Linked DNA regions of Homo sapiens: region 2 is linked to region 1. The links come from fine-mapping of genetic effects on gene expression. A gene starts in region 1. The other region holds a variant in brackets. All regions are shown on one strand. Distances are between the middles of the regions.

Region 1 (11,420 bases):
CTCCAGGTAAGGTATTGAATATGAAATTCCAGCTAGCTATATATAAGTTTGATATTTAAAAACTGGGAACTGGTTCTTTTCTGTTGTACTTTACCACAAAACTCAATATCCATCAAGAAAATATTTTATTATAAAAGACAAAAAAGGTCGGGTGTGGTGGCTCACACCTGTAATCTCAGCACTTTGGGAGGCCAAGGTGGGCAGATCACCTGAGGTCCGGAGTTTGATACCAGCCTGACCAACATGGTGAAACCCTGTCTGTACTAAAAATACAAAAATTAGCCAGGTGTGGTGGCCTGTAGTCCCAGCTACTCGGGAGGCTGAGGCAGGAGAATTGCTTGAACACAGGAGGTGGAGGTCAGAGTGAACCAAGATCACGCCACTGCACTCCAGCCTGGGTGACAGAACCCGACTCTGTCTCGAAAAAAAAAAAAAAAAAGGTAAGAAAATAACAGATGTTGGCAGGCTGTGGAAAAAAGGGAATGCTTATATACTGTTGGTAGGAATGTAAATTAGTTCGGCCACTGTGGAAAGCAGTTTGGAGATTTCTCAATTAACTAAAAATTGAACTACGATTCGACCTGGCAATCCCATTACTGGGTACATACCCAAAGGAAAAGAAATTGTTTTACTGAAAGACCCATGCACTTGTATATTCCTTACAGCAGTACTCACAATAGCAAAGATACGGAATCAACCTAGATGCCCACCAATGGTGGACTGGATAAAGAAAATGTGGTACATATATACCACGGAATACTATGCAGCCATAAAAAAGAAGGAAATCATGTCCTCTGCGGCAACATGGGTGCAGCTGGAATCCATTATCTTAAGTGTATTAACACAGAAACATAAAGCCAAATACTGCATATTCTCACTTACAAGTGGGAGCTAAACACCAGATACATATGGACATAAACATAGGAACAACAGACACTAGGGACTACTGGAGCAGGAGTAGGAAGGGTTGAAAAACTACCCATTGGGTATTGTGCTCACTACCCAGGTTATGAGATCAATCATACCCCAAACCACGGCATCACGCAGTATACACATGTAACAATCCTGCACATGTACCTCTGAATCTAAAATGAAAGTTAAAATTTAAATAAATAAGAAAATAAAAACAAAAATAGAATGGGTTCTCAGGTTGCTTAAAGGCAGGGAGTTGACTTAATGACTTTAATGGGCCTCTTCAGCCCTTTCATCCCTGGGAGAGTAAAATATTTCAAAGTAGATATGCTATGCTATATAAGCTACATATCCTATATAAAATTATCAAAATGTTGGCCAGGAACGGTGGCCCACACCTGTAATCCCAGCATCTTTTGAGGCCAAGGCAGGCAGATCACTTGAGGCCAGGAGTTCAAGACCAGCCTGGCCAACGTGGTGAAACCCTGCCTCTACTAAAAATACAAAAATCAGCAGAGTATGGTGATGACGGCCTGTAATCCCGGCTTGAATCCAGGAGGCAGAGGTTGCAGTGAGCTGAGATTGCGCCACTGCACTCCAGCTGCGCAACAGAGCTGTCTCAAAATAAAATAATCAAATGTTTGAAAAAAAATTTAAAAAAAATTTTTTTGAGACAGGGTCGCACTCTGTCACCTAGACTGGAGTGCAATGGCACGAGCTCAGCTAACTGCAGACTCAACCTTCCAGGCTCAAGTGATCCTTCTACCTCAGCTTCCTGAATAGCTGGGACTAGAGGCACATGCCACCACACCTGGCTAATTTTTGTATTTTTTGTAGAGACAGGGTCTTGCTATGTTGCCCAGACTGGTCTCAAACCACTGGACTCAAGCAATCCTCCCACCTTAGCCTCTCAAGTTCTGGGATTACAGGCATGAGCTACCACACTCAGCCAGAAAATATTTTATTACAGCAAATAAAATTTTACCCTCATTATATAAAGTTGTGCATAGTCAAAAGTCAAAATTTATAAAGTAGTTCAGAAAAGAAATTTAGCATTCCTAATTCTTTCTGTAGACCAGATGCCATTTGAGCTTAGATGAATAAACTTTACCAACTCATCTTCTACATGATAATATGCACTGCCATAGCTTCACTGGCAATGCTCTTCTTTAGTTGTACATCTGGATGGAAATACACCAAAATGTTAACAGTGGTGTCTCTGAATGGACGGACAGTAGAATTATGGGTGATTTTCTTTTAATCAAGAAATAAAATATAACAGATTAAATGGTGTTCACATAACACAAATTATACTATTTATTAATGAAGGATATCAGAATCCAAATTTGATAGTGAGTTTCATCACAAAATCCATAACATATTTAAAAGTCTATTAAGTATGAAGAACATAACAAACATAATATGCGTTATGTTTGTAATAGCTCTCAAAGCTAAAAAACAAATACTACTCATTTTGCTAATAATACAGCAAGTCTTCTGTCCAGTCTGCATGCCAAATTTGCTGCACTGTGACGATATTAAAGAGTTAAGTCAGAGTTACAAAATCTTGAAATACAGAATTAAGACCAAAGGAAAAAAATCCCCCTTAGTCCCATAGCACTCGAGCCTATCAGCTGCTAGTTAAAATAGATTAAGCATAGATTTCATATTTTTCTTTATGAAACAGATTCTGACTACTGGTAGGTTTTTTTTTTTTTCAACCAAACACCAAAACTTCCAGTTGAGATGGCTTCCTTTTTTTTTAAAAATAAAAATATTGAGCATGTTGATATAATATGCAAAAAACTCCAAACTTGGCAGTAATCTTAACATATCTCCTCAATATCATACAACTTGACAGCAATGATCATTTATCAGTCTTTGATAGAGTTCTTGAGATTGAGTTCAAACTTTAATATATTAAGGTGAAAGAGCCATTTGACTCAAAAGCTAATATAAAAAGAGATTCCTACTTAAGCTCTGAAGAAGCAATGAAAGGGGAAGGGAAGCTAGTTATTCAGTCTAGTTGGAATTTTACTCAGTAGTGCCAACTGCATCTAGTGGAGGGATTAGAAAAAAGCAAAGGAGATAACATAGTAGTGGGATGTTATTCTGGGCACCAAAAGCACATGTAACTGCATACTGGCAACAGTGAGACAAGCTAACAAAGGGGACAGAAGATGTACTTGACAGGATTATAGAGAGTTAGCAGATGAGTAGGAGGAGATGGCATATGAGACGTAGGCTGGGGAGAAGTAGGAAAGAGCCTTGATGGTAAAGACGAATAGTTTAAATATAATACAAAATACAATAATGGCCCAGTGAAGCAAGCTGAGAAGCCCAAGATAATGTCTACAGTACAGCATTTCAAGCTGTCTAAGGAGTAGCTATTTAGACAAAAAATCTGAAAGGGGGAAGTTATGAAAGCGACAAGAGAAAACATTCAAAATTTGGTCCAAGCGTTTTTGTTTTTGTTTTTGTTTTTAAGAATTGAAAAGATAAAGCGAGACCAGGCGCAAGCGGCTCATGTCTATAGTCCCAGCACTTTGGGAGGCCAAGGCGGGTGGATCTCTTGAGGCTAGGAGTTCAAGACCAGCCTGGCCAACATGGTGAAACCCTGTCTCTACTAAAAATACAAAAAGTAGCCAGAGGTGGTGGTGCGTGCCTGTAATCCCAGCTGCTCCGGAGGCTAAGGCAGGAGAATCGCCTGAACCCGGGAGGCAGAGGCCGCAGAGAGCCTAGATTGTGCCACTGCACTCCAGCCTGGGCAACAGAGTGAGACTCCATCTCAAAAAATAAAAATATAATGAAAATGGCAGCTGGTAAGAATTTCTTGGAAATTTGCCAGTTACCTAAGTATTTAAGAAGACACAGTAAAAAGAAAATTTTAAAAATAGCAAAATAAATAATAAAGACAACTATTCAAAAGATCCTGAAAGCTTCAAACACAAAGAATAATGTACTACACAGTGACAGGAATGAAACATTTAATATTTTAAAACAATTTTCCAAACTACAAATAAATTTCTTAGACTTCTTTTTTATTAAATGCAATTCTGGTGTATTTATATAGCTAATTCTTATTTTTTCTGAAATGAGTTATATTCTAATTAAATAAATTTTACTAAAAAAATCCGAATTCAGCTGTTCACTAACCCTTAATAATTTTTAACATAAATGTAGACACAAATGTGCAATGAATTTATGTATTCATTATGGACTACACTTTTAAATCCATTCCTTGCTCAGTGGTTTTCGAATGCTTATTAAATATCATTGACCTTATGCTGAGGAAAAGCTGTCATTCTAGGAAATTCACCACTTCTACCACTAGGTGGAGAAAAAACACAAGTAGTATCTGTAATCAAAGCTAGTACAAGGCCCCAGGTACTTTACCTAGAATTTCCACCAGGTGTCAACCAAGAGGTAGGGAAAAGATAAGACTGTTTTTCCCACTTAAATATGCAAATTTATAATTTTATGCATAGCGATCTAAACTCTGAAATAAATGGCCTGCTCATTAATTGTCTAGTTTGCATATTTATACTCTTTATATATTGCTGTTGAGTCCAAGATATTGCCTTGTCAACTAAAATCCAACCCCCAAAAGCTTAGTTTCTTTTGAAATAAAACAGCAAGACCAATAAGTTTAGTTTATTGTGACTCATAGGCTCAACCTATCCATATACACTACGCAAAAGAATCTAAAACGTTTAGACACGGACAGCCAAAAATCTTCCAAGGTATTTTTGGTCATACATATATATATAGAGAGAGCACCAGATTCATATTTTTTCTTTCTACATTTCTCTTGTAAGGCAGTTCTGTTGATTGCCAGTAATCTAGATGAGTTTATGCTGTTATGCTCTGAATCCCAGTGTGATGTGACGAAAGCACTGCTATTTTTTACCAAACATTCACAATAAAAAGAGAAATGTACCTATATTTAAGATGTATCATGAGAATTACTACGTTAAATGGTCCAAGGCTCTCGGCCGAAAATTAAAGCTTCACACAGTTAAATCCCTATTTATATACCAAATCATGCTTTTTAAAAACAATTTTATGCGCTTCACTAATTTCTAACAAAGATTTTCCGATTCTGTTGCAAACAATATGTCAGCTAAACCACTATGTCATATGCCTTTTATAAGGTAGTACTTTTTTAGGCCGAACTCTATTCTTATTCCTCTGGACACAGGAGTTGTAATCATGTCTTACTCTGCAAATCTAGCCGTAGGTGGTGTCTTAAAAGGACTTTTTCTTCCTTCGAGGAAGTGATCAAGCTTCCCCCAGCCCCCACCCGTGTCATCCTGGAAACAACTTGGTTGTTTTTCGGTGCTAATTAAGCAATGTAGGAGAAAGAAGTTGAGGAGACAGCAAAGCCTATTGATTACATTGTACTTGCTTCTCTACCTCGCTCTTCAAAGGATTAAGGTTCCTTTGACCTCGACTGAGTTCATTTCCAACCTGCCTACAAAGTACTGGTTTAAAAAAAAAAAATCCAAGCAAAGTATGCTCTTGTCTATGAACAATATTTCTTGTCCGGTTTTATTACGTTTTCTTTGGAAATTCGTTAGATTATGCTCAACAATCGGCCGCTTGCCCAACCGGTTTCTCCCTTCCCCCATCTCTCTTCACACATCACTTTTTCCTCCTCCCATCCAGGCAGTTGGTAAAACGCTGCAGTGCCGGTAACGCACGCTTCGGGCTGGTCGCTGCAGTTTATCCTAACTTGGCTTTGCAAACTCCCCACCCAGCCCTTGTACCCTCGCACCCCACTCTGCCATTATCTTTCTAGTAGAGTGCGCTCGGTAACGGGCTCCAGATAGCACGTCGAGGGTATACGGTAGCCTGCCTACCAATAGGAGCCCACAATGAAGAGAAGTCAGGTTCAGCCGGCCAGCAGCTCCAGTATCTCCTTCCCCTAGCTCTACACCTACTGTACCCGGGAGCGAGCGGGCAAGGGAGCGAGCGCGGCGCGGCGCGGCGCGGGAGGGGGCGCGCAGGGAGGGCGGACAGCAGCCGCGGCCTGCGCCTGCGCACTGGGGTTGTTTTTCACAAAGCTGCTCTTAAAGTGAGCTGGCAGCTTTTAGCCGCCCGTCTTTGTAAGGAGACCACTGAGACGAGCGGGAGCGCGGAGCAGCAGCCTCTGCTGCCCTGACTTTTTAAGAAATCTCAATGAACTATTTGTAGAGAATCACTGATCCGGCCTGCAAGCATTTTGCACGGCAAAAATATCGATCAGTGTTAAGTGAAGATCACATTTTATATGCGATCTTGACTTTTTTGTCTTACATTATATTTTTATAGATTTTGTTATAAACATGGTGCTGGGAAAGGTGAAGAGTTTGACAATAAGCTTTGACTGTCTTAATGACAGCAATGTCCCTGTGTATTCTAGTGGGGATACCGTCTCAGGAAGGGTAAATTTAGAAGTTACTGGGGAAATCAGAGTAAAATCTCTTAAAATTCATGCAAGAGGACATGCGAAAGTACGCTGGACTGAATCTAGAAACGCCGGCTCCAATACTGCCTATACACAGAATTACACTGAAGAAGTAGAGTATTTCAACCATAAAGACATCTTAATTGGGCACGAAAGAGGTAAGTTTTTGTTATTCATAAGTCATTGGACTCATTTTCTTTGGAAACGTACCTTTTCAGTTTTCTGAATTAACGTGATTCTACTCCTAGCATAACTAAGCAGTTTGAGAAAGGTTAGCAAAGTTGGAAGGTTTGGATTCTCCTTGACGTTCATCGTGTGTTAAGCCGTAATGCATGCAGGCATCTGCAAAGTGACTGCAAACTACACTTATTCAGCTACCTCTGTACCCGGCTCGGTCTGTGCCACACGCACTTGTAGTCCATTTGCACCTTACTTATAAATTCTGTTTGAATCCAATTCAGTCGTTTTACTAATATATTTTCAAATGAATTGGTAAAAGCTGCAGTCTTAGATTTTTGCCCTTTTACTTGCAACCTAAGATGTAAAAACTGAACTTCGATCAAGAAATGTAATAACATTTTTAAGAGACTTAATGGGTGTGTTTCATTTTTAATATTGGAATGCAAAAGACTTTAAATAATTGATGACTGTTCTTTCATAAAAGATTTCTGTGGCTTATTTTGACATATGGTATCAACACCCCACGTGTTTTTTCTCTATTCTTTACCATTCCTTTAAAAATTTACACCCAGCATTCCTTATTTTAAAGGAATGACTATCTGTCATTATGATAGGTATCGAGTCAGGTTTAGAAGCCATTTAGGATCAGTAATTTTCTTTTCCGAGCATCATGTCTAACTTTGGAACGTGCATTCAATGAAACCCATGCCAGTCAAATGGAATTGAAAAGTATAGGGCACACTGGATTTGATTTTTGGTTAGAAGAGAGAGATAAAGGGTTGTCAAAAGGAGAAGGAGTCCTGAGATTTCCAATCTATTGTTTAAATGGTTACATTGTGGAAATATAGGAGACTCTAGGCTTGTTTTTCTAAGTTTCCACCCTTTGTTAGAAGCGGTTCAATCCTGTTTCGGACCAGTTCTGGGGGGTGGTGAGGAGGGGCGCTTGTTCTGCTCTCAGCAGATTGGTTACACGCGTCAGGTGGTGGCGATGACTTAATTCCTAGCCCAAGAAGAATATAATGTTAAAACTGGTTATGTAATTTTTGTGCCTCTCCTTTTTAATGCAGTATTTAGTTCAGATGTTGGCGATTTTTCAGAAAAAAAATTAGAGACATATTTTACCTTATTTTTTATATTAAAAACGTACATCCTGGAGAAGTGCTGATGACTAAGGCAAGTGAGAAATGAAGGATGCTTTGAGGGACAGTATTAATGCATTATTTTTGAAACTATTAAGGTGAACTCAGTTCTTTAGCAGGATTTTCGTAGTTAGATACAGGTACTTTGCATCCTGAAATAACTAATTAATCTCTCCAAGTGTTAACACTGATAGGAGATGCAAATGCCTAATGACAGCCTTGGTATTTGTTGAAAAGCAGATAGATGACTTTGTGTTTGTACCTTTCTGAATATTGCAGCCTTTTATGAAACGGATGAAAGAAAACAGATTTTTCCTCAAGGGGTTAAGACTTGCAGTGGGGAAAAGTAGAACAACGAGATGTGAGGACAAATATAATTTCATTAGTTGCACCATGATTTCGTGGTAAAGAAAACTAAATGCCCTGCACCCCCAACAAAATGCCCCCCAAACCCTGCAACGCGTAGACGAGCTCAGTCTGGAATAGTTTCAATGACTTGAAACTGGGAGCTCTCAAACTAGCCTGGTAACTGAGACCCCGCCCCGGGCGCCCGGGATAGGCGGAGCCAGGTTTGTTAGCCTGTTGCTAAGGCGATGGCAGGCGCTGATTGGATTGGGCGCGGGCGGGTGGGGAGAGTGAGCTCGCGCCGCGGCTGGGGCGAGGCTAGGAAACCGGCGTGCGCCGGTAAAGGTTCCTCCAGAGCGACCCCCACCCAGCCCGTACTCACGTTTGTTCCCGGGCTTCTGGGGGCGCCCAGCCCGTGTCAACATCATGTTCTGTCGCCCCTCTTTTGGGCCTCCTAAGGGCCATCGAAAGGAAACGACTTCAGGCTTTAACTGAGTAGAGGGCAGACGCTCCTGCCGGCCTTACAGGTGCTGGATGGCCATGGACCCAACTTTAGCAGAAAATCCTTTTCAGATGGAAGTTGGATGGGAAGGGTTGGCAGGACCCCCGTTAGCTATCTTCCGAGTGGGAGGTGTCAGGGGACTCCTGTGAACGCTTGTTTTCCCCTTAGCTGAAACAAAGCTTGTTCCCCGACCTCTCCAGTCGCCACACTGTCTACCTTGAGTTGACCTGAGGGGACAGAGCAAAGGCTGGCCCGAGGAAGAAGGAAAGTGATTCCAATATCGAAATGTTGGGGGAGGGGGGGGCTTCGACGGGTATCCTCTGCCCCCTCCCCCATCGTTTTCCGAAGCCTTCGGGCCCCCGCCTCCCCTTCGCCACCCCAATATCCCTTGCCGAAACTAAAGGTGTCAGAGTGGCCCGAGCCAGATGGAACCGGTCGCCGGCTGGGGCGTGTAAAGCGGAAGCGCCGCGGCTCGCTCGCCCCGCCCCCCGGCCAGCAGGCTAGGTTGCGCGGGCACGGGCGCGAGCGCCGCGCGACGTATGCCGTATGTATAGCGGGGCGCGCGGGCGGCAGCGGCGGCGGCGGCGGCGCGCGGGCAGGCCGGCTGGGATCTGCTCGCGCCGGTTTAGGCCGGTCCTCTCCTGCTCCGGTCTAGTTCTTGATTGACAGCCCGGCACTTGTTTACCACGGCGCGGCCGCCGCCGCTCGCTTCAATGAGACTGCTGAGCTGGCACAAAAAGGGAGCGAAGAGGGAAGAAAGGGAAAGGAAGGCGAACTTCGGGCGCCTTCGAGGGGAGCGAATTTAAATGGCCCCCAGCTCATCAGCTAGTTTTTGGTTCTGAAATCCGTTCAGGGGAATTTGCACAGGGGACGAGGAAAATTGTATGGAGACATAAGCGAATCACCATGATTTTTAAATGAAAGTATCGACGTATACATGCTTTTTTCCCCCTTTTTCTCGTTTAATATCAGGGAGGCATCACGTTTTTTGTGTATATCCAATACTTTGCTGAAGGAAAGTTAAATAATGTGCCAGTTTTTTCTACTCTGGGGGCTAATCGTAAAGGTTTCTACACCAAGAAAACTTTAAAAGATATTTCTGTAATTATTTAAAACGCTAAATAGGCACTTTAATGATCTAGAACCCCCTCCCATATTTTCGATTATATTTATTTTCATGCCACTTGAAAAAAAATAATTTCACCAAAAAAATTGGTTGTAAAATGAAAGGTCATCCCTTTTTTATAGAAACTGGAAACTATTAATAGTTAGACTTCATTTTTTTCAAGGATGTTGGAAAATATTGTTTCCTTATAAGCCGACACCACCTAAATGCGGTTCTTTGTAATTATCTAAGGTATAGTTTATGCAAGTTTTAGTCGTTGCTAGGACCAACTGAGTGTTGTGATCATTTTAGATCAATAAATAATTATTTTTAGTTCAATAAATAATTATTTTTAGTTATAAATCTGACATTAAAATCAATGTGTGGCTTTTTTTTTTTTTTTTTTTACTCCGTCTATTTGACAAGGTTTTCTAGTGGTTTTGGAGTATCTATTCTATTCACATCTGGTATTATTATTCCCTATAAACTGACATATTTTAAGAGGGTTGCATGAACAGTTTTTCTTTGATACATTATAGTCTTAATGTGATAAATTTAAGCAAACCGTTGGAGACAAAGGATAGCATTGTCTTACCATGATGTGAGACCCGAGCCTTTTGAGTATATATACTATTTTATAAACAGATGCTTTGCAGTTTGGGTCATTTTCCATTAGAAAAAATAAAAAGCCTGTGGGGTGTGAGTATTCATTATCCCCATTTTACAGATAAGGCAGCTGACGACAGGATTTTTATTTTGTCCAGAGGAAATGATGAAGTTAGAATTAGAACTCAGATCTCTCAGACTCCAAAGCTTGTTTTGTGGTCTTAATTGTTATGTAAGCATCTTTAAAGTTATGCCACCCTGCGGAGTATGTAAATGTTGAATAATAAATTCTTTGTTTTCTTTTTATGTTTGTTTTAGATGATGATAATTCCGAAGAAGGCTTCCACACTATTCATTCAGGAAGGCATGAATATGCATTCAGCTTCGAGCTTCCACAGACGTAAGTATTATAAATAATAGGCATTTTTATAGATACTTATGATCAGAGCATTATTTTAAAATTAAGTATTCTAAATTTAAACATTTTTAGTTGAAAAAAAAACCCTTTTCATTACTGAAACTTGCTAGAGGAAAACAATATATTAAACATAAGAAGCTATTTTTTAATCTAGCGTGGCAAAATTATAGAAAGCATACTCAATTTTCAGTATTCTTTCCTAAAGTTTATGAGGTTTTTAAAATAGGAATAGGGTTTCCTTTAACATGAGTGAATTGGAAGTTGCTAGTCGAATAATAACCACTTTATACTTAGTTTATTATCAATTATCATTATGAGAAAAGATAGACCCTATCAAGTCTTAGTAGCTTCAATTTATAAAAAATTCTATATTCTACTTTTTCTGCTAATACTAACCAATAGCAGTAAGTTTCGAAAATAAAAATAATTAGGAATATCCTAACTTTAGAAATGTTTTTCTTCTGATATGAACTTAATAGCTTCTGTACAAAGAACTATTGGGAAGGTCACACAAGAGATATGACCCAGGCTTAAAAGGAAACATGCATCAAGGATACATTAATATAAAACTTGGAATCTAGTAAGAAAGGAAAAAGGAAAGTGGTATATTCTTAAAGTAATGACAGATTGTTGGAAGAGATGATACAAACTTTTTAAAAAAAAATGCCTTTTAACAAATATTAAAACCTGCAAAATGGCACTTGTGGTGATTATTCTGGAGAATAAACAGATTACATAAGATTTTGTCAGGTGACAAATGTACA
Region 2 (11,420 bases), 73 kb after region 1:
CTGAGTGACAGAGCGAGACTCCATCTCAAACAAACAAAAAAGTTAGAAACCTATTTAGCTTATTTCGGGCATAGCACAGAGCAGCTAGTCCAAATCACAAATTTAAGTTTTCTGTTCCTATAGGTATAGTTTTTGAGTCTCGTATCTAAGCTATCCTTGAATCCCTACTTGAAAGTTGACCAACATTTGTCAAACAAAAAAATCTAGAGAATACTGCTCTTTAATGACCAACATGAAAGTACTGTGCTACTAAATTTTATATTTATTTATTTATTTACTTATATTGAGACAGGGTCTCTTTCTGTCACCCAGGCTGGAGTGCAGTGGTATGATCATGGCTCACCACAGCCTCCATCTCCTGGGCTTAGGTCATCTTCCAGCCTCAGCCTCCCATGTAGCTGGGAACACAGGTGCATGCCACCATATCCAGCTAATTTTTTGATATTTTTGTAAGGACAGGGGTGTCACTCTTGCCTGAGCTGGTCTTAAACTCCTGAGCTCAAGAGATCCTCCCACCTCGGCCTCCCAAAGTGCTAGGATTATAGGTGTGAGCCACCATACCCAGCCTACTAAATTTTAATAATGGTAACTTCTGCAATTTTCAGGAAATAGCTACTAGGTAGGATTTCCTCCTAGGCCACTTTTCTCTTTTCTTTTTTTCCCCCTTCCCTTTCCCCTTCTTCTCCTTCCCCTTTTTCCTCTTCCCCTTCCCCTTCTTCTCCTTTCAGAAGGAGTCTCGCTCCATCACCCAGGCTAGAGTGCAGTGGGGTGATCTGGGCTCTCTGCAACCTCCATCTCCCAGGTTCAAGCGATTCTACTGCCTCAGCCTCCGAGTAGCTGGGATTATAGGAGTGCACCAACACATCTGGATTTTTTGGATTTTTTGTAGAGACAGGGTTTCACCATGTTAGGTCAGACTGGTCTCCAACTCCTGATCTCAAGTGATCTGCATGCTCCGGCCTCCCAAAGTACCGGGATTATAGGAGTGAGCCACCACACCTGGCCTCTAGGCCACGTTCTTAAAGCTTTGTCCTGTCACCATTTATCTGCCAGGGACAAAAACAAAGAAACAAACAGAAGTAAGCCGATATCAAGTAGAAAAAAAAGCAAAACAAGTTAAGATTCTATTATGCTAGGAAGGTAGGTATAGATAAGTTCCTATAGGACCCTAATGGTCAGGATATTGAATTTCGACTTTATCCTGAAGACAATAGGGAGTCTTTGATATGGAGACAGACTAGAAATGTAAAATCAGTCTCTACATTTCAGAAACAAGGCTGAGTGCCGTGGCTCATGCCTAGAATCCCAGCACTTTGGAAGGCCGAGGCGAGCGGATCACTTGAGGTCAGCAGTTTGAGATCAGCCTGGCCAACATGGCGAAACTTCGTTTCTACTAAAAATACAAATAGCCAGGTGTGGTGGCAGGCGTCTGTAATCCCCGGTACTCAGGAAGCTGAAGCAAGAGAATTGCTTGAACCCAGGAGGCAGAGGTTGCACTGAGCCAAGATCACACCATTGCACTCCAGCCTGGGCAACAGAGTGAGACTCAGTCTCAGTAACAAAATCTAGGCTGGGCGTGGTAGCTCACGCCTGTAATCCCAGCACTTTGGGAGGCTGAGGTGGGCGGATCACCTAAGGTCAGGAGTTCCGGAGCAGCCTGGGCAACATGGTGAAACCCCGTCTCTACTAAAAATGCAAAAATTAGCTGGGTGTGGTGGCATGCGCCTGTAGTCCCAGCTACCAGGGGAGGCTGAGGCAGGAGCATCACTTGAACCCGGGAGGTGGAGGTTGCGGTGAGCCAAGATCACACCACTGTACTCCAGCCTGGCTACAGAGTGAGACTCCATCTCAAAAAAGAAAAAAAAAAAAGAAAATCTATTGACAAGATTGACAAGAGTTCATTTTAAAGATGATTCTCTACACTTGGAGCATGGGATCTTGCCTGTCAGCAATTTTCAGCCGTCTCCAGATTAGTAACTGTGACTTGCCACCCTGGTTGATGGGCTGGCAGGAAGGAGTGTGTCATATCAGAGATTGCCACAGACACCCAGGGCAATGTGATTTGTCACTTAAAGAGGACGGCAGATCAAGAGCATCTCATCCTCCGGCTGCTGAGTCATCCTGCTCTGGCAGTTATTTAAACAGAAGGCTCCAGGAGACATACAATCAACACTCCACTCAGACAATGCCCAGACCTCCAGAAACCATGTGTCAAGCTCGGATTGCCTTAGACAGGTGCAATTTAAGAACAGCTTTCATCCTCTTTTCTCTCATATTGTCACACTATGTGTTCTGACTTCTGGCTCCTTTCCTCACAAGAAGCTCACCCAGCTGGAACTCTTATGGGACCTTGGCACCAGAGACCACAAATTCCTCTTTGAAGTTTTCTAACAGCAACAATGGTATTTCTGACTTGGCTTTCTTGTATTTCTCTCACGTTAACAAAATTGGTTCAGCATCTACCATGGGCTACATGCTGAGCTACAGGTAAGGTTTGGCTAAAGGATGAATAAGAACCCCTCCTTGTCTTCAGGAGTTTGTCTAGCAGAGGAGTCTGTCATGTAATCAGGAAACTCCAGTACACAACGTGATAGCTCTAAGACAGGTATATACAAGATGATGTTCTGGACCTTAACTGTTTGGGGAGTACTACTGCCTTTGTCTAAAAGCCATCACCCTTTTTATATGCCATTTGGGAGGAACTGGGGGGACGTGGGAGGCTTCAAAGGGTTATGGGAGGATGGACATTTTAAAAGGGCTTTTCTTTTCTTTTTTTTTTTTTGAGACAGAGTTTCGCTCTGTCGCCCAGGCTGGAGTGCAGTGGCGCGCGATCTCGGTTCACTGCAAGCTCCACCTCCCGGGTTCACGCCATTCTCCTGCCTCAGCCTCCTGAGTAGCTGGGACTACAGGCGCCCGCCACCACACCCAGGTAATTTTTTGCATTTTTAGTAGAGACGGGGTTTCACCGTGTTAGCCAGGATGGTCTCGTTCTCCTGACCTCATGATTCACCCGCCTTGGCCTTCCAAAATGCTGGGATTACAGGCGTGAGCCACTGTGCCCTGCCAAAGGCCTTTTCAAATCTAACGATGTACTCACATTTCCACCTGTCTGCCAGCCCTTGTCCAGTTTGACCTGGGCACTCACTGCTGCTCTGGTGGTGAGTACTGCTGATGGTTCTTTTCCCTGCCCATCCTTGAGGTGCTCGCTTCAATATGTCAAATGAGGACTCTCATTACATTTGGCTGTCATACATCAGCCACAACTGTCCTGCCCAGAAGAGCTGGCCTTGGCTTTAAAGCCTACATCCTGGCTGACCTTCTTTACTGCTTTATTAAGGAATCCAACTTGCTGTTTGCTATCACATGTGCTATACATGCTGTTGATGAAACTGCTAAAGGGGCTGAATGTGACTGACGTCTTTGGAAGGATGAGACTTAGCGTGCCTGTACAGTTGTGTCCAAATGCTGTCCTCATCTCCCAATGAAAAGGTATTGTAAATAAAGAGAAAGATCAGAGGCTTATTTTAAACACTAAATATGAGCTAGGAGCTGTCCTAGACACTATGTAAAAGTTTTATTTAGTTCTCACTGTAATGTTGGCCTTATGTTAGCATCCCATTTTTCAGACTGAGGAAATTATGGCTCAGAGAGGTTAAGAGACTTATTGAAGGTCACACAGCTCCACAAACTTTGGTGTAGATTGAACGTGTACATGGGTCTATGTGACTTTGAATCTTGCATTCTTTACATTATTGGAATATTTCACAGAAGGAAAATGACATATTAACATGGCAATAAGATTTCTGGTTCCAGTCTGGTTACTGGTCTTCCAAGAGTGTTATAGGATGTATAGCCTGAGCTCTGAAGCTTTGTTCTGAAGCATGCTATCAATATGAACAAATTGGTATGGAAGGAAGCCACAAATTATATACTAAAATCTAGTTCATCAGAGGAAAATATAGTTAAATACATTTACATTCCCAGAACTGTTAATATTGAAGAATAAAACACACAGTGGGAAAGAGACGAAGAGAAAATACGCCTGTTTTTATGACTTGTTGATATCTACAGGGTTTTTCCTTAAGCCTCACAACAATTTACAGCATTGCCAGCAGCATTCAGTACATTCAGAACAGGATAATTTCACCCGCAGCTGAACTAGGGCCATGCCTGGGACAGACAGAGAATGGCCTTCCAGCAGACATGCCAAGAAGCAAGCCAGGGTCAGTGAGTGAAGAGGAGGGCAGGCCCATTTGAAGCAACACAGTTTATGTAAGTGTGATCTAACTGCTTTCACTGGAAATGGGTCAGACTCCAGTTGAGAGAACCAGGGGCCTGAATGACCCCAGCAAAATCACTGTGGCAATTCTTTCAATCACCTCTGAGAATATGGCCCTGTGACGACATAATGACGTTTGGATTAATTCCAGTCGGCTGTGTTTTCCCCTCCTTTCTTGC[C/T]TCCCCGTAGTTGATTTGCCAAATTTTTTTTGTTTGCTTAAATACGCGGAACTAAACAGGATACATTATATGACAGTCTGTGATAAATTTACCACTGGGAATAGGGAAAAAGTATGGGATAAAGAAATAGGTATTTTTCGCCTCTCACAGCTGTGATTCAGTTCTGACTCAAAAGGAAGTGTGCCACCTACTGAATCACAGAAACCACTTCCTGTGGCTGTTTGGTTTATTCTGGAGGAGCATCAGGCCAAGTGCTGCCCTGCCCTGACCCTGACTGGCTCTTCAGAGCCAAGGCATTCACAGCTTGAGGTGGTTTGGCCTCAGACTCTTGAGAACATTGCATATTAAATTACAAGTGTTTCGTTTCCTAGCAAGGAGTCTTTAGCAACATGAAAACGAACGTGTGTTATTTGCAAACCAAGTATATCATTACTGAACCTGAATATCCTTACTTTTTCATAAGGTACGTATTCCGGATGACCACTCTTAAGATCTGAATGTACACTGGTTCTGTTTTTCCTGAGGGGAACTTGGGCAGTCTGCAGGGTGGCATTTACCAGCTGAGGGACTTCAAGAGCACCCTTTAATCAGTGTGGCAGCACTCAACTTGTATTCACTCACTCAGAGTATTTTTGAGCATGTACTTATTGCCATGTGCTGTGCTAGGTAGGGGTAGAGGGTACAGTGGTGAACAAGACCCCACAGCTCCTGACCTCATGGCTCATGTGTTCTACACCATAAGGGAATCAAGCTGTGTCTCCCGGGGCAGGGGCCTTCCTCTGTTCACCATGCAGCCCCAGCATCTAGCACCTGGCGTTGCATAAAGGAGGCTCTAAATCAAGCTTGTCCAACCCAAGGCCCACGGGCCACATGTGGCCCAGGATGGCTTTGAATGCAGCCAAACACAAATTTGTAAACTTTCTTAAAACATTATAAGATTTGTGTGTATGTGTTTTAGTCCATCAGCTATTGTTAGTGTTCATGTATTTTATGTGTGGCCCAAGACAATTCTTCTATGTGGCCCAAGGAAACCAAAGATTGAACACTCCTGCTCTAAATACTTGTTTGTTGAATAGATACATGAAAAGAAAGAAGGAGAGAAGGAAGAAAGGAGGGCGGAAGGAAAGGAAGAAGGGAGAGAAGAAGAGAAGAAAGAAGCAGAGAAAGGAAGAGAAAAGAAATTACGGCCAGTGCGGTGGCTCACGCCTGTAATCCTAGCACTTTGGGAGGCCTAAGCGGGCTGATCACCTGAGGTCAGGAGTTCGTAAGCCAGCCTGGCCAACATGGTGAAACCCTATCTCTACTAAAAATACAAAAATCAGCAGGGCATGGTGGTGCGTGCCTGTAATCCCAGCTACCTGGGAGGCTGAGGTAGGAGAATCGCTGGAACCCGAGAGGCGGAGGCTGCAGTGAGTTGAGATCATGTCACTGCACTCCAGGCTGGGCAACAGAGTGAGACTCTGTCTCAGAAAAAAAAAAAAAGAAAGAAAGAAAGAAAGAAAGTTACCATTAGTTTTTTGTTGTATTTGCAAGCAAAGACAAAAGCACCAAGGTACTTGTTTCCTTCTGTAATTAGAGTTTCAAATAGACTAAAAGTTTCTGCTCTTAGGTGGGTCTAGAGACTCTCCAGTACCTCAGGACCTCAGGACACATGGGGTCTCTTGGTTGTTTTCTTTTCATTGTTGTTGTTTATTTTATTTTTGTTTTTATTTTTTAACTTTAAAACAATTTTTTGTAGATGAATATGCTTACATATGTTTGGGGGTTTTTTTGAGACAGGGTCTTGCTCTGTTGCCCAGGCTGGAGAGCGGTGGTTTAACCACAGCTCACTGCAGCCTCGACCTCCCAAGGTAGGGACTGCAGGTGTGTACACTGGGGTGCACCACCACACCCAGCTAATTTTTAAATTTTTTTTTGTAGATATTGTCTCACTCTGTTGGCCAGACTGGTCTTGAAATCCTGGGCTCGAGCAATTCTCCTGCCTCGGCCTCGTAACGCGTTAGGATTACAAGCGTGAACACCGCACCTGGCCAGCATGTGGTCTCTTAACCAGAGGAGGCCTCTTCTGAACTAGGTAGAGGTCCTGAGAATTGATTCTGAGAGTAAAAGGCTCTTTGTTCTCCTCAGAGTAGATTAGAATCCCTAATGATAGAGCATCTATTATTCCTCTAGTGGTCCATGCCCAACAGATTCATCCAAGAATAGATGAAGATCTTTGTAATGTTGTGCAAGTAATCTAATCACCCCACAGAAGAGCTGTGACTTAAATTATCCCAGAGTCGGCCCACCTGTTTTCATAAAGATCAATGTAACTTGTAAATTTCTTCAGTTCTCCTCACCTATCATCATTTGACTAACAAAACCCAGAAAACTAGGCTAGTTATGGTGGCCTATGCATATAATCCCAACTCTTTGAGAGGCCAGGGTGGGTGGATTGCTTGAGTCCAGGAATTCGAGACCAGCCTGGGCAACAAAGGGAGACCCTGCCTATATCCCAGCTATGCAGGAGGCGAGGCCAGAGGATTGCCTGAGCCTCAGAGGTTGAGGCTGTAGTGAGCCATGATTGCCCCACTACACTCCAGCCTGGATGACAGAGTGAGACCCTGCCTTAAAAATAATAATAATAGTAATAATATTTCATAAAGATACAGGAAACTAGATTATAATTGACATTTTCAAAGTGAAATACTGTCTAGAATGGTGCTTGGCCAACAGTAAGCTTTTTGTAAGTGGAAGTCATTACTACTACTATTTCTTTCATTATTATTACCATTACTACTTTTTTTTACAAAAAAAAAACCCTGGACAACACACTGAAACCATTACTACTTCTACTACTATAACTTAGGTTGCACCTGATAGAGCCAGCAATTTTTCCAAGGTATGACAATGGCCATATGTTTAATGATATAATTCTATGGCTCAGTGTATCTCAGCCTTTTTAAACCCTGCTCTTCTTTTGACAATTGTAAAAATCTTAAACTGACCTCCAGTTGAAATCCTCTGTCAAGAAGATATTGTCGGCCAGGGGCGGTGGCTCACACCTGTAATCCCAGCACTTTTGGAGGCCGAGGTGGGAGGATCACTTGAGGTTAGGAGTTCAAGACCAGCCTGGCCAACATAGTGAAACCCCATCTCTACTAAAAATACAAAAATTAGGCAGGCATGGTGGTGTGTGCCTGTAATCCCAGCTACTCAGGAGGCTGAGGTAGGAGAATTGCTTGAACCTGGCAGGGCAGAGGTTGCAGCAAGCCGAGATCACGCCACTGCTCTCCAGCCTGGGTGAGACTGTCTCAAAAAAAAAAAAAAAAAAGAAAGAAAGTAAGAAAAAGAAGAAATCCCAATCTCTTCTTTTATGTGGATTCTTCCTCACTTGAATAATACTTTTCTTCCCCAGTATTCTCCATATTATCCCAGAGTCAGCCCCTCTGTTTTTGTAAAGATCTACGTAACCTCCTCTAAGTTTCCCAGTTCTCCTCACCTATCATATCATTTGGCTCAACAAAGGGCAGGAAGCTAGATTCTAATTGATATTTTGAGGCCGGGAGCAGTGGCTCATGCCTGTAATCACAGCACTTTGGGAGGCTGAGGCGGGCAGATCACTGGAGGTCAGGAGTTCGAGACCAGCCTGGCCAATATGGTGAAACCTCGTCTCTACTAAAAATACAAAAAATTAGCCAGGCTTGGTGGCTTGTACCTGTAATCCCAGCTACTCAGGAGGCTGAGGCAGGAGAATAGCTTAAACCTGGGAGGAAGAGGTTGCAGTGAGCCGAGATTGCTCAATTGCACCCCAGCCTGGGTGACAGAGCAAAACTCCATCTCAAAAACAAACAAACGAACAAACCTGATATTTTCAAAATTGAGGCAATTATAACAGCTATTTAGCCAAGCATTATGATAGCAATAATAGCAAGAAAATAAATTAGTTAACAAATGAGTCTCAGAAGCCCAATGATTTTTATTTTATTTTTATTTTTTGAACTTTTATTTTAGAATCAGGGGATACATGTGCAGGTTTGTTACCCGGGTATATTGCATGATGCTGAGTTTTGGAGTATGCATGAATCCAACCTGTCATCCAGGTAGTGAGTATAGTACCCAACAGATAGTTTTTTTAACATTTACTTCACTCCCTTCCCCAATCTTGTATTCCCCTGTGTCTACTGTTCCCATTTTTATGACTGTGCCAACAATAATTTTTTTTCTTTTTTCTTTAAATAGAGATGGGGGTCTCTATTTAAAGAGCCTCCCAAAGTGCTAGGATTACAGGTGTGATCCATTGCACCTGGCCCATGCCAACAATATTTGAAACCCTTATCTGCGTGTACAAGTTTGCTACTGGTTTTGTTTTGCTCATTAATACATCCCAAGCATCTATACCTGGCTTGTAGTACCAGCATGTAGTAGGTGCTTAATAAATATTTATTGAATAAATAAATTAGTTTGACATTAGTTTAACATCTCAAGTAAAACAAAATACCATTCAATTAATTCTCTTCTTCTACTTTTTTCTTTTAAGAGAGACAAATAGTCACACATACATCAGCAGGAGAGGATACAATTTCCTGTGTTTAAGTTTTTATGAGTTACTTTAGTTCAAATGTCACAGAAAATTATATTGAACTCTTGACCAATCTATCTATTTTTTCCATTGGAGTATTGACCCAAATAAGAAATAGCATAAAGGAAAAATTATTTTTTGGCAGAAAAATATTCTCTCTAAATTCTTGTGTGTTTTGTTTTGATTTTTTCCTTAGTGACTGGAGGCCAGTTTCAATCCACTGAAGCACAGATTCCAAATTTTCAATCTGGTTTTCTTGAGTAGTGACTGAGTGCCAAAAATGAAGCAATGACACAACATCACCATCAAGACACTCCCCAGCACGCACACACATGCCAGAGTCCAACACCAAGATACTCCCCAGCACGCACACACACGCCAGAGTCCAGGCCATATTCGGGTGGCTTGCAAGCTTCTTCCCCCCAAGTATTTACTCTCAAAATAATGGTTTTTGTTTTGTTTTGGTTTGGTTTGGTTTGTTTTTTTCCAAATACATTTCTTCCCTATATCTTTAACCAATTCTCATAAAATTTTGTCTAATACACTGGTCAGTGTATTCCAGACCCTAAAAGATAACATAATGAAACTATCTATGACTAAAAGGTAATCAGGATCTTCTACTTATCCTTTTTTCCTCCCTCTTAAACTTTAATTTTGATACATTTGGGAGTGAAATGATGACAATAAATGCAAAGTAATTATTGAAGAAACAGTAATTTTGTATTAGCTTACTGAAAAAAAAAAAAAAGATAACCAAATATATTTTGGCAGCCCCAAACGAGTCACATGTGAAATGCAGTGGGAGAGCAGTGTCCTGAAGGAAAAGGTGGCCTGCTGGACAGCCAAGAGAACAAACATCCACTGCAAGTAATATGAGCTCTAAGTTTGGACTAGGCCTATGTCTGCTCTGAGACTTGGGGCAATTCACTTAATCAGAGCCTTAATCAGCTACGGACTAGCAATATCCATACCCGCTACTTATTTTGTAAATCTCCTTTCTAAAGTTAACTCTATTTATTGTTCCATAATCCCATAAATTCTAGAATCTTTTCCTGTTATAGCCAAGTTGTCTATCATTGACAGAGATATTCACCTGGTTGTTTTGGCTTCTCTAATCCTCCTGGTGAGAACACCTCCAAGGGAGCTTTCAGTGGCATTTAAGGTCACTTGTGCTCTTGGTCCTAGAAACTGCCTTGATAGTGGTTTTAGCTCACATGAGGTAAGTCTTTATTATATGCCCAACCTCTTTATGCATTACTTCATTTAATTGTATACTAATCCTTTGTCATAGGTTATCAGAGTGTTTGATTATAAGTTACAGGAAGAAAAAAAAAAACAAACTCCAATTGACTAAAACAATGGGGCATTTTTTGACTCACATAACAGAGAGTCTAGAGAGAAGGCACCTTCAGGTTTGGCTGATGAATCCTGTATCTCTGCCTTGTCTCCAGGCCCCCAGGTTCTGCCTCTGTCCTGACATCCAGTGTTGGATTCCTCTTCACATCAACTCCTCTCTGTAGGTTGGGCCATCAGACCCTACCTCCTTATTTATGTTGAGCAAAGGAGAGAGAATGCCTCTACAAACAATGAAAAAAGTGAAAAAAAAAATCTTTCTCCTCCTTATAACTTTAGTTAGCTTAACTTTAGTCAGTTGCTTAGCTACTAAACAGTAGCTATTGGGAGGTGGGAAGGAATACTATTGTGTAATCAACTAAGGCTCATACAGAGGATTAGGGTTATCTGAATTGATTTGAATTAATTAGAATTTACTCTCAGAGCTGTGGCAATTCCTTGAACCACACTGATTGCTATAAAGTGGAAGAGGAATAGATTGAATTTTGGGGAGTCAACTACAATGTGTACTACAGGTAAATACTATGAATTTCCAATTCACAGATGAGAAAACTGAGGCATGTGGTGGGAGGGAGGTTATGTAATTTGCCCAGTGTCACAGTTGAACCTAGGCAAAGGCCTATCTCCAGGTCTAAACAATTCAGTGGCCTCCTGTGTACATTTCTGTCTCTCCTTTTTTATCCACTGTGTCACCGAGGCTGGATTGCAGTGGCTCGATCATGGAGATCATGGCTTTCTGTAGCCTTGAACTCCTGGGCTCAAGTGATCCTCCTGCCTCAGCTTCCTGAGTGGCTGGGACTACAGGCTTGACAACACACCCGGCTATCCCGTGTATATTTCTTGAGGGCTTATGATATATAAGAGAAACTCCAAAATAAGAGGACGGTGTGCTAAGGGGAAGACCAAAGCACTATCAAGAGGTAGATTCAATCGTACCCCTTCTATTTACTAGTTGTGTGACTCTTTTGAAAATGAGAATAATAGGCCAGGCTCGGTGGCTCCTGCCTGTAATCCCAGCACTTTGGGAGGCTGAGGCAGGTAGATCACC

Direction of the effects. Positions count from the first base shown, and alleles are read on the strand shown. Sizes are in standard deviations (SD) of each study's normalised expression.
As copies of T replace C in region 2, the expression in monocytes after R848 of the gene that starts at base 6,015 in region 1 goes up (small effect, 0.38 SD a copy in Quach 2016).

The links.
Region 2: its variant is fine-mapped to the expression of ARRDC3 in monocytes after R848 (Quach 2016, PIP 0.95).

What each region holds. Positions count from the first base shown.
Region 1 is chr5:91,377,912-91,389,331 of GRCh38, reverse strand. It overlaps ARRDC3 (arrestin domain containing 3), which reads left to right and starts at 6,015. Exons shown (of 8, transcript NM_020801.4): 1 at 6,015-6,519; 2 at 10,557-10,638. The coding sequence starts at 6,240. It overlaps ARRDC3-AS1 (ARRDC3 antisense RNA 1), which reads right to left and starts at 8,985. Exons shown (of 3, transcript NR_027435.1): 1 at 8,408-8,985. RefSeq lists enhancers at 5,249-5,548, 5,428-5,945 and silencers at 5,799-6,108, 8,254-8,323, 8,944-9,123.
Region 2 is chr5:91,305,147-91,316,566 of GRCh38, reverse strand. LUCAT1 (lung cancer associated transcript 1) reads left to right here and starts at 2,165. Exons shown (of 5, transcript NR_103548.1): 1 at 2,165-2,487; 2 at 2,790-2,929; 3 at 3,338-3,489. RefSeq lists enhancers at 1,866-2,653, 1,541-2,740, 4,185-4,729, 4,092-5,291. The variant C/T (reference allele first, on the strand shown) is at 4,459.